3 linked regions of the Homo sapiens genome follow. The protein of the gene in region 1 purifies or fractionates together with the protein of each later gene. This does not show direct contact. Each region holds a gene or a part of one and is shown on either strand. Other genes may lie near its edges. The genes, in order: EPB41L4B, RAB21 and PCLAF.

The links.
Region 2: the proteins of EPB41L4B (region 1) and RAB21 purify together in Homo sapiens (affinity purification with mass spectrometry; one large-scale study listed by BioGRID and IntAct). This does not show direct contact.
Region 3: the proteins of EPB41L4B (region 1) and PCLAF purify together in Homo sapiens (affinity purification with mass spectrometry; one large-scale study listed by BioGRID and IntAct). This does not show direct contact.

The regions. Positions count from the first base shown.
Region 1 is NC_000009.12:109,213,059-109,216,708, reverse strand, and holds part of EPB41L4B (band 4.1-like protein 4B), read left to right. Parts: intron 1-2,890; coding exon 2,891-3,009; intron 3,010-3,650. UniProt on the Homo sapiens protein: Up-regulates the activity of the Rho guanine nucleotide exchange factor ARHGEF18. Involved in the regulation of the circumferential actomyosin belt in epithelial cells.
Region 2 is NC_000012.12:71,768,358-71,772,007, reverse strand, and holds part of RAB21 (ras-related protein Rab-21), read right to left. Parts: intron 2,209-3,650; coding exon 2,149-2,208; intron 1,417-2,148; coding exon 1,309-1,416; coding exon of another isoform or gene 1,306-1,308; intron 1-1,305. UniProt on the Homo sapiens protein: The small GTPases Rab are key regulators of intracellular membrane trafficking, from the formation of transport vesicles to their fusion with membranes.
Region 3 is NC_000015.10:64,378,605-64,382,852, forward strand, and holds the start of PCLAF (PCNA-associated factor), read right to left. Parts: upstream 2,838-4,248; 5' UTR 2,768-2,837; coding exon 2,722-2,767; intron 2,435-2,721; coding exon 2,354-2,434; intron 1-2,353. UniProt on the Homo sapiens protein: PCNA-binding protein that acts as a regulator of DNA repair during DNA replication.

The sequences.
Region 1 (3,650 bases):
TCATTATAGGGTCACAGTTCTCCACCTCCTTTCTTTTTTTCTTTTCTTTTTTTTTTTTTTTGAGATGGAGTCTGGAGTCTGGCTCTGTCACCCAGGCTGGAGTGCAGTGGCATGATCTCGGCTCATTGCACCCTCCCCCTCCCAGGTCCGAGCAATTCTCCTGCCTCAGCCTCCCGAGTAGCTGAGATTATAGGCATGTGCCACCACACCCAACTAATTTTTGTATTTTTAGTAGAGACAGATTTTGACTATGTTGGCCAGGCTGGTCTCAAACTCCTGACTTCAGGTGATCCACACATCTCGGCCTCCCAAAGTGCTAGGATTACAGGCGTGAGCCACCATGCCCGGTCAAGAAGTGAAGGCTTTTGAAAAGTGATTAAGTCATGAGAGTTCCACTCTTATGAATAGATTAGTGCCTTACAAAAGAGCTGGACGAAAAAAATCCCAAAGTGCTGGGATTACAGGCGTGAGCCACAGTGCCCCGCCTCCACCTCCTTTCTTAACAGTTCTCTGCCTCTGTGGTACCCAGCACTGGCTTGAGCAATGGAAAAGAGAAAGAGGGGAGGGGAGTGATGGCTGGACTTTCTACTTTCTTCATCATAGAAAAACTCATTCTATCCCATTTTTGACATTCCACTTGGGAGAGCAAAGTGGTGTCAGGTAGATCCAATCTGTCTACTGTTATGGGTCCCAGAAAGAGAAGTTACAAAAATAGAGAGTGAGCAATTAGAAATTTTATTATTTTATTTTATGACAGGGTCTTGCCATGTTGCCCAGGATGGTCTTGAACTCTTGGGCTTAAGCAACACTCCTGCTTCAGCCTCCCAAAGTTCTGGGATTATAGGCATGAGCCACCATACCCAGCCCAGAAATATTGTTAGCAATATGATAGAATGAGTTTATATCTTTTAAATCTAATAAAAATATGGGCTTTGATTCGGCATGTCCGTTATTTTATTTTTCTAGAAACTCACTTTTATTATACGTTACCAAAGAATTCATCTTTGGTATGAAAAGAACCTGTTGTTTATCAAATGTGGTTTGAAAAGTACTGAGGGCTGGACGCAGTGGTACGTGCCTATAATCTCAGCTACTCAGGAGGTTGAGGCAGGAGAATCGCTTGAAACTTGGAGGCAGAGGTTGTAATTATGCTTGTAATCCCAGCACTTTGGGAGGCCGAGATGGGTGGATCGCCTAGGTCAAGAGTTCGAGACCAACCTGGCCAACGTGGTGAAACCCTGTCTCTACTGAAAATACAAAAATTAGCTGGGCCTGGTGGCGTGCACCTATAATCCTGGCTACTTGGGAGGCCGAGGCACGAGAATCACTTGAACCTGGGAGGTGGAGGTTGCAGTGAGCCGAGATGGTGCCACCGCACTCCAGCCTGGGCGACAGAGTGAGACTCTGTCTCAAAAAAGAAAAGAAAAGAAAAGAAAAGTACTGAAGTGGAGGCTTCGATTCTAGCTCTTACCCTTGAACTGAGTTCCCTCTTTGATCTTCTATTTTCTCATCCATGAAATAGGGTAGAGGGTATTGAGATGATGACCAAGGAATCTTCCAGCTCTGATATTGTGTGAGTCTGTGAGCTGTTGAGACAGGATGGGCCATCCAACCTTCACCTTGGGGCCACAGGGAACAACTCTGTGTCAGCTGAGCTGGAAATGGAAACTCGACACCCACTTGGTATTGAAGAATCCGAACTCTGTCCCTCATCACTATCCACACTGCCCATGCCCTAGTCCCTGCCTCATCTTTGTATATCTAAATAACCATAACAGCCTCCTAAGGGGCACCCGCTCCAGGACAATCTCCAAATAGTAGCTGCCAAAGTCATAGTTCTCACCACATAACTCTGACCACATGCCATAAGACCTTTCATTAGCTCTTCACTGTCTGGGATAAAGTCCTCGCTTCTGAGCAGGGCCATACACAGACCTTGCGTATCCTGACCCCTGCCAAGGTCTTCATTCTTCCCTCCACTCCTCACCATACTCTAGCTACACAGAACTACTCTCTTCTTACAAAATACTCTACTGGGTCTCAACTCTGTCCTTTGCACCTGCTGTTCCCTTTGCCTGGAATACTTTTCCCCACCTTGTTGAACTCCTACACATCCCTTAGCAGCCCATTCAAATGTTCGCTTGTCAGTGAAATGTTCTCTAACACCCATCCTCAGTTCCGTCCTGCTCCTTTAGCAATTAAATAAACCTTTTCTCAGTCTTCTTCGGAATATCTCCACATGTGTCCGTCATCCCCATTAGATTAAAATTTTGTCTCATTCACCTCTTTCTTTCAGCTCCCAGATCCCAGTTGCTAACGATACTTGGCACAAGTTTTAATATGTAATGAATATTTAATATTTAATGAATATTTAATGTATTAATGAGTAAATTCAAGCTGGAAGGAGAAGTAGTGGCAAATGAATCCAAAGTAGCACAGAAATAAAAATCAATGGATTTGATTTTAGGAACATAACATGGCTTTTAAGGGCACGTTATATGCCTGTTTGCCTGAACACTAATCTTTCCAATTTGCATAATGCTTTTCCATTTTTAAAGCATTTATACATAAATGACTTCATTGGATATTCACAGCAACCCTGCAAGGTAAGTAATTTTATTTTCATTTTTAAATGGCTCAGAGGGTCAGAGAGGCAAAACAACGTACCCAGGGGCGTCCAGCTCATGTGTGGGACAGTTAAGCCTTGAAACCTTGACCTCAGATATTCTCACACCCTATCAGCTGATGCATACTGAAGGCATGAGAGCTGCTGGAGGAGGAGGCCGGCAGAAAGGGTGCTGGGAATCGGGCGCTGGCAAGTGTCCCTTTTCCCCTGTATCTATCTGTCCTTTCAACCTTTCCTTATTTATTTCTCCTGGCTGCTTTGTAGAACTGAGTCCAGGAACACCTGCCTTGTTCAGTGAAGCCGCTGCCCATCTAAAGAAGCTGGAACTGGAAACTGTGAAGGCTGCTGGACCCTGGCCTCCTCTGCACATCAACATAAACAAGGTGCCAAGGGCCGGGGCTCTGCCATGACCATGGACTTGGTGCTGACATCAAACCTCTGATTACTACCCTAGCCTGCCTGCTAAACCAAGTGCCTTTGCCTTGGAGGGATCTCTATTCCATCTTTCCTGACATTTCTGTTCAGGCTGTCTTTTAGGAGCAAATATTTACTTACCTTCCTTTTGGGTGAATTATAGCATTAGGCGTCGTTCCCAGTGTTTTGCCTGACAGGCTAGATCTGTTTGTTAGTTGTCTCTCCCTCCTACTAGACCGAAAGCTCCAGAGGGAGCATCCACATTTACCGCTTTGCATTTCTAGCCCTCTATCTCCCTCTGACAATGCCTGGCACATTGTAGATGTTCAGTAACCATTTGCAGATGGAAGGAAGGGAGGGATTAAGATACAGAAGGAGAAGGAGACAGGGCAGAAGCCAGGCCCCCTTTTGACTAGACCTATTCTTACATCCAAAGAGGCAGCCTTATAAAAGTCAAATTTTATCTTAGAACGATACATACCACTGCTGGATTCAGTCTGCCATTTAGTTCAACCTTCTCAATGTCTCAGACCAGAGGAAGGGAAATGACTTTCTCAAGGTTGCACAGCCCTTGACAACCTTCTCAATGTCTCAGACCAGAAGAAGAGAA
Region 2 (3,650 bases), on another chromosome or scaffold:
CAACCTAAATGACTCGATCTTTTTTTTTTTTTGAGATGGAGTCTCACTCTGTCACCCAGGCTGGAGTCCAGTGGCGCGATCTAGGCTCACTGCAACCTCTGCCTCCCCAGTTTAAGCAAGTCTCCTGCCTCAGCTTCCCAAGTAGCTAAGATTATAGGCATGTGCCACCAAACCCAGCTAATTTTTTTGTATTTTTAGTAGAGATGGGAGTTCACCATGTTGGCTGGGCTGGTCTCTAACTCCCGACCTCAAGTGACCCGCTGTCCTCGACCTCCCAAAGTGCTGGGATTACAGGCGTGAGCCACTGTGCCTGGCCTCAATCTTCTCTTAATAAAATACTTAAACTATGTCTTTTCATGCAAAACGCGAGAGGGAGATAACAAACAGCAGCACCAAAATAACTTTTAAAAATCATTAAATCTACAAGGTACCTATCGTTTCATTTTCTACTTTTGGATTAAGTTTTTCCATTTATCATTAATAACCCAAGGGCTAACTTGTATATCTGCTCTATCAGATTTAACTGGGAAAAAAAATAAAGAGAAAAAACAAAACAAACAAGGTAAGTAATTTTACCAAGAACAAGCCTGTAACTCAAGGCAAGAAAAGCTTCTTCCTTGGCATTATTCCCTGTAGTTACACATTGTTGACATATTCCAAGAAGAGCTTTAGGAGAAAAGGTCAAATAAGTAACCCATCTGATTGTGATGAAAATTCAGAGGTAATTAAATGGTAACTCATTTTTGGTCCCAAACAACTTTAAGAGTCATACGTATGTGGTGTGTTTTTGAAGGGAAGTAAACTAATGAGATAACTTTAAGACTGTCCTTTTAAAACTTTTATTATATTTGGCAAGGAGAAAGCTTAAATGTGATGTTGTTCCTCCTTTTTCCTCTTCACAATAAAGGAACCCGTCCAGCCACACCAAGTTTAAGAGCCCAATGCGTATGGAATTAAGGAAATATGTGTGATTTTTCCTTAAGAGGGAAAAACAAAAGCCCCCATATTTTTCTGAAGCTCAATTTCAAATATTTCCCTTCCCTAATATTTGAGAAAGCCATGTAATAAGGCATTAATTATTCTAACGTAAATTAATTCATATGAATCAAATATTTCATTAAACATATGAGTACACCACCATGTTGTAGGTGAAAAGAAAAATAAAATGTAAGTGGTCACCAGTTATGCACAAATTATATACTTTATTTTTAAAAAGAAAACTAATCACATTAGTGAATAAAGGTATATTAATGGAAACTTGAAAAATTACTATTGTTCTTCTAAGACATCTACCCATGAATAGAATACCTTCTGAAAAGAATCTTCATCTGTTATGTCATAAACTAAAATCGCTCCATTTGAATCTCTGTAGTAAATTGGACCCAATGCATGGAATCTCTCTTGACCTGCCGTATCCTAAAGAAAGCAACAAATGCTTATTAGATCAGAAGAAAAATACAAATCTGCGATTGCAACTATGGTGAACTTTTTGATTAATTGGAAAATATGGCATAAAGTCAAAGACAACCACAAAACCCTATTAACAGAAACAAAACAGCAAAACAGGCCACACACAAAATTTTTAAGTTATGACCAATATGTAATGTTTTAGTGATATACAAAAGTTACTTTTTCCCTCCCAACCTTCCTCCTCCTCAGCACTTCCCCACCCCCATTAAAATACCAGTTTCAGTTGCCAGAGGGTCAAAACAACCAACACAGTATTATAAGCCAGGAATAGGCTCTGCCCTAAGTTTAAGTTCCCACACTGGGAGAGACAGGGAAATGGCACGTGCATCAAGATCACCAGTCAAGAAGTATCTGCTGCATTATCCTCACCCACCAGCCATTCTCTTAGAAGGCTGGAATATGGAGACACAGGGTGGGGAAAAAAAGGCCAGGCAAGCTGTCCACCCACCCTGTCCTCTCTCTGAAGTGGAACCCCTCTGAGTTGACCCTTCTCCAACTGAAAAGTTATGACAGCAATATTCAAATATACAATTATATTCCAGATATAATTCTCAACCAGATTTTAAGATTCTTTTTAATTAAAAAAAAAAAAAAGTGTTGGCTAAGCTCCAATTAACTTTAAAAAAAAAGAAAAAAGGAAGAAGCCTCCACGCATAATAGTTGAAAAAGTTCACTTACCCATATGGCAAGGTTTACTCTTTTCCCACCAATATTTAACTTCTTTGTTAAGAATGATGCCTAAAAAGAGAAATAAACATTAAACAATGTTTCTTATAAAATAAGGTTCTTTATCCTAACAACTATAGATGAATGAATCATCTCAATGTAAAAGTTATCTGGGAGAAAAAGTAATCACCGAGTTTTAAATTAATGATCGAAATTGTTTCATTAAAGATAAGACATTATTTACATTTTTATCTAAAAAAAAATCTTGTTTTCTGAAAATAGGTTATACAAAACACACAGAAAATAAGTATTTTTTTCTTAATATTTTTCCTTATCTATGTGGAACAAAATTTTCCCTAGAGCATTTAATTTGATGCTACCTTATCACAGAAAGAAAGAGTCTAAGAGATTTCTAAGATAAAATAAATGTTTACTGGTGGTTTACTTAATGTACAAATATCAATATTATTCAAAATGATTCCACAGTTACTTCATAACTCAATTGTTTAACATATATTCAATAATTATCCTAAGTATTAATGTCAGAGAAATGAAGGGACACGGTTCTACCCTTTATACTCTACTAGAGAAATAAAAATAAAGAGAATTACGATTCCATGTGATAATTGCTAAAATGGAGGGTCTTGCCAAATACACTGTAAAGATAGTACTGAGAAAGGAAGTATAACAGTTGTCTGAATGAGTCAAAGAAGGCTTCAGAGAGAAGGTAATGATCTCCCCTTTAGGAGCAGTAGGGACTGTTCCTGATAGATGAGTGAAGCCACTGAAGCCTCAAACACATGACTCCATCCCACAGGGAACTCCAAGTGGGTATGGTCAATACCAGAGATGAAACTACACAGATGGACTTTACCTTGTGGGTCTCAACAAAACCTGTTCTAAGACACCAGACATGTATTTAGACACACACACACACACGTCAAGTATACTTTGGAAATACTATGTATTGATTTTTATACACCAACAATGCACATTAACACATTAGGATGCTGCCAAAAGGAAGGCTAGCTGACTGTATTTATACAAGCATTTCCCAAACTCATTTGAACTTTTTTTCCCTGATTTTCTTCTGTATAGCACTGAACCTTTTTTTCCTGGAAAAATACCAAATTCATCCTAAAGAACAACTGTTTGAAGAAACAGGACTACTGACAAGGGAGAATCACTGAATGGTTTCAAGCAATGGGGAAACAGATCTATATTTTAAGAGAATGACCCTGGGATAGGAAGGGAGGTTGGACTAGAAAAGATAGGTAGAAAGAACACTTACAAAATTGGAGAAAAATATAAAAAAGGAGATCTGAACTAAGACCATGAAGATAGGAAAGAAAGAAGAGTATCAAGAGTTACTGAAGACAAAATATATCCAGAATCCAGAGTCAGCTGACGTGTTTAAAAAAAAGGAATAGAGAGCTGAGTTCAGACCTGTATAGAGATAGTCACATTTAGGTGTTATTTATATAGAAGAAAGTGCAAAGAAGGTGAAACAGATA
Region 3 (4,248 bases), on another chromosome or scaffold:
TTTACTACTAGAAAACATACAGCAGCAGCTGGGCGCAGTGGCTCACGCCTGTAATCCCAGCACTTTGTGAGGCCGAGGCAGTTGGATCATGAGGTCAGGCATTTGAGAACAGCCTGGCCAACATGGTGAAACCCTGCCTCCACTAAAGATACAAAATTTAGCCAGGCATGGTGGCGCATGCCTGTAATCCCAGCTACTTAGGAGGCTGAGGCAGAAGAATTGCTTGAACCCGGGAGGCGGAGGTTGCAGTGAGCCGAGTTCATGCCACTGCACTCCAGCCTGGGTGACAGAGCGAGACTGTGTCTCAGAAAAAAAAAAAAATATAGCAGCAACAGGTTCAAACCCAACTCCACTGATTTAGTTGTGTGACCTTTATCAAGTTATATAACCAGATATTAAATTTCCTTATCTTTAAAATAAGGATATTACCCATTTCATACATCCAATTATTCGGATTAAAAATAGAGATTTTTAAAATGCCTTAAAGGATGCATTTATTCAACATATATTCAGTAAGGGCCTATTTAGTTGGCTCTGGTGATTCAACAGTGGACCAGACGATGAGATGCGGCTCTAATGAAATTTCATCAGGCCAGGCGTGGTGGCTCACGTCTGTAATCCCAGCACTTTGGTAGGCTGAGGCGGGAGGATTGCTTCAGCCCAGGAGTTCGAGACCAGCCTGGGCAATGTGATGAAACCCCATCTCTACAAAAAACACAAAAATTAGGCGGGCGTGTGGTGGCATGCGCCTACAGTCCCAGCTACTTGGGAAGAGCCTGAAGTGGGAGGATCATTTGAACCCTGGGGTCAAATCTGCAGTAAGCTGTGATTGCACCACTGCACTCAAGCCTGGGCAACAGAGTGAGACCCTGTCTCAAAAAAAAAAAAGAAAAAAGAAAAGAAAAAGAAACTTAGTCTAGTGGTACAGGGTATAAGTTACTCTAAAAAAATTCATCAACTTCTATTTCCTTTTATCTGAAGAGATAGAAATAGTAAATGTTTTCTAATGAAATGTTTATAATAGGGAGAAATTTGAATTGACTTTAAAACCCATGAAGTCCTAAACAGTGTTCACCTTTATGTTCTTAATTAAATCTTGTAGCGTTAATCTCCCTGTCTGCCAAATTTCCTACTGAAAGGAATGAGGCACCAGATGGCAGGGCATTTTCTCATCTACTCCACGCACAGAAGGAGCAGCGTGAAGCTATTTCCTTTGCCGGGTTTCACTCCTACTCTCCCAAAGACAGTATTAGGAGCTGCAAAGTTGGAGAAAACCCACAGACATCATACTCAAACAAACAAACAAACAAAAAAGAGTAAGGAAGAAAGGAAAAACAAGCAAACAAAAACAAAAACATTTTTATTAAAGTTTAGTAGACATTGCAATGAGCACTCAGCACTGTTAACGATTGTTCAAACCCTTAATCTACTAAGGGGGCTTTTAAATAGCCTCTAACAATATTTAAATAGCCTCTGTTATTATTAAGAAAAATAATAGCTGGGCGTGGTGGATCACGTCTGTGTTCCCATCACTTTGGGAAGCTGAGGCAGGCAGATCATGAGGTCAGGAGTTTGAGATCAGTCTGGCCAACATAGTGAAACCCCATCTCTACTAAAAATACAAAAAAATTAGCTGGGTGTGGTGGCGTGCACCTGTAATCCCAGCTACTCAGGAGGCAGAGGCAGGAGAATCGTGTGAACCCGAGAGGCGGAGGTTGCAGTGAACCAAGATCACACCGTTGCACTGCAGCCTGGGCAACAGTGCAAGACTCTGTCTCAAAAAAAGAAAGAGAAAGAAAAAGGAAAATACTAAACCAAAAAACAAAAATTGATAGGCTGGCTGTGGTGGCTCATGCCTGTAATCCCAGTAGGAGGATTGTTTGAGCCCAGGAGTTTGAGACCAGCTTAGGCAACATAGTGAGACCCCCATCTCTACAAAAAATAGAAAAAAAAGCCCGGCGTGGTGGCATGTACCTGTAGCCCCAGCTACTTTGGAGGCTGAGGTGGGAGGATTGCTTAAGCCCCATAAGTGGAGGATGTAGTGACCAGTGATTGCACCACTGCACTCCAACCTGAGCAACAAAGAGAGGCCCTGTCTAAAAAAAGAAAAGAAAAGAAAAATAGGCTTGAAGATAAGGTGTGTCGGTCCTTAACTCCAAGGCTTGAAATTCCCTTCCATGAGACCTCCCCCCCACCTCTACCCTAGCCGGCCAAAAGGCCCAGCCTCTCTTATTATATCACAGGGCAAGGAAGAAATTCGGGCGTGAGTACCTCAAGAAAAAGAAATTCATGGCAAGCCAGGGGCTTGCAGGTGCCAGGACTGATCCCCTAACTTTAGGAGGGCTCTTCTTACCTTTCCTCGATGAAACTGATGTCGAATTAGTGGCAGAGGTGGAAGAACCAAGCACCTTTCTGGGGGCTCGAGCAGCCACCACTGTGAAGAGAGGCAAAAAAGGGTGTTCAGAAGGGGCAGGAGGGTTCCGACACCGAGTCCTGGACCCCAGCAGCTTGGAGAGGAGAGCCTGGCGATCCAGAACAGCAGGATAACCTTACCCTGCCCCTGCGACTTCCTCTTCTAGGTAAAGGGGCCAGGCGGCTACTCCCTGGCTAGCTAGATGAGTTTGGCGCACAGGGCCCAGGGGGACCTCTGGCGTCTGTCGCCCGTGGCCAGGCTGCCGGGAGGACCCCCCCGCCCTCCAGTACCACACTCGATCGCCTCACCTTTTCTGTAAGTGCCTGGAACACTGTCTGCTTTAGTCCGCACCATGTTCAAACAAGAAGAGAGGAGAGGAGAGAACGAACTGACTTCCCAGCCGAGGGTGTTTCACTGGACAAGGACCCGAAAACTATCCCGCCACAGTTTATATTGGTCTCTTTCCCGCGCGCTCCAAGGTCTCTCCCGAGCCACCGCTCCCATTGGTTCCGCGCCGTTCCCCCTGAACCAATTGCCAATGCCCAGTGGTGACAGCGGCGAGGCTTCTTGCAGCGCGAATCCGTCCATCAACACGCAAAGGCCTAGGATTCGTAGGCGCCCCAGGTGGGCGGTACCAGGACTCTCCAGGGGTACCCGACTAGTGGGTGCTAAGTTTCTGAACTACAGAAATGAGCCTGCTTAGAAAAGAAAACCTAGCAAAGACAGCGAATTACAAACGATCTTCAAAAGTTACTATAGCTTTAAGTCCATAATGATTGACTCCTGGAGGTGAAACCTGAAATTAAGCGGACTTTTTGATGCAAATCAAAATTAAAAGAACTTGAGAACTTTCCTTTAGTCCCCCAGGCATGAACTCTTTGTACAGCATCCATACTAAAACAATTCTATGGAATGGGGAAAAGGAAGCTAATACAACTTGTTTACAAGGGTTTTTTTAAATGTCTTTAGGATGATGTGAGACTAAACAAAAACTAGGGGGATTGTATATACATACACACATAAAAAGAAACTAATAAAACGTCTTCTTGAGAACCGAATGGTGTCAGAGCTCCTAAATAATCTGCCAAATCTGCCAGGAGCGGGGACTCATGGCTGTAATCCCAGCACTTTGAGAGGCCGAGGCGGGCAGATCGCTTGACCCCAGGAGGTCGAGACCAGCCTGACCAACACGGTGAAACCCGTCTCTACAAAAAATATACAAAAATTAGCCGGGTGCAGTGGCATGTTCCTGTAATCCCAACTACTCGGGAGGCTGAGGTGGGAGGATGGCTTGAGTTCAGGAGACGGGAGATTGCTTGTGCCTAGGAGGGAGAGGTTGCAGTGAGCCATAATCACACCATGCACTCCAGCCTGGGCGACAGAGCGAGATCCTGTCTCAAAAAAAAAAAAGAAAGAAAGAAAGAAAAGAAAAGAAAGAAAGAAAAGAAAAGAAAAAAGAAAAGAAAGGCAAGGCAAGGCAAGGAAATGAAATGAAACGAAACGAAACGAAAAGACCCTGCCAAATGTGGTAAGACCACATCGCTGTCACACAGTGAGCATAACTCTAGGATAAAGGGTCATAATTTTTTTCTATCTTTATGCTTACCTTCTAATTACTCACAACACCCCTGGGGAGTGATTTTCACTCTCTAAATACCATACATAAAACAGAATCGGTCAGGCATGGTGGCTCACACCTGTAATCCTAGCACTTTGGGAGGCCGAGGCAGGCAGATTGCCTGAGCTCAGGAGTTCGAGACCAGCGTGGGCAACATGGTGAAACCCAGTCTCTACTAAAATAAAAATAAAAATAAAAAATAAAAAATTAGCTGGGA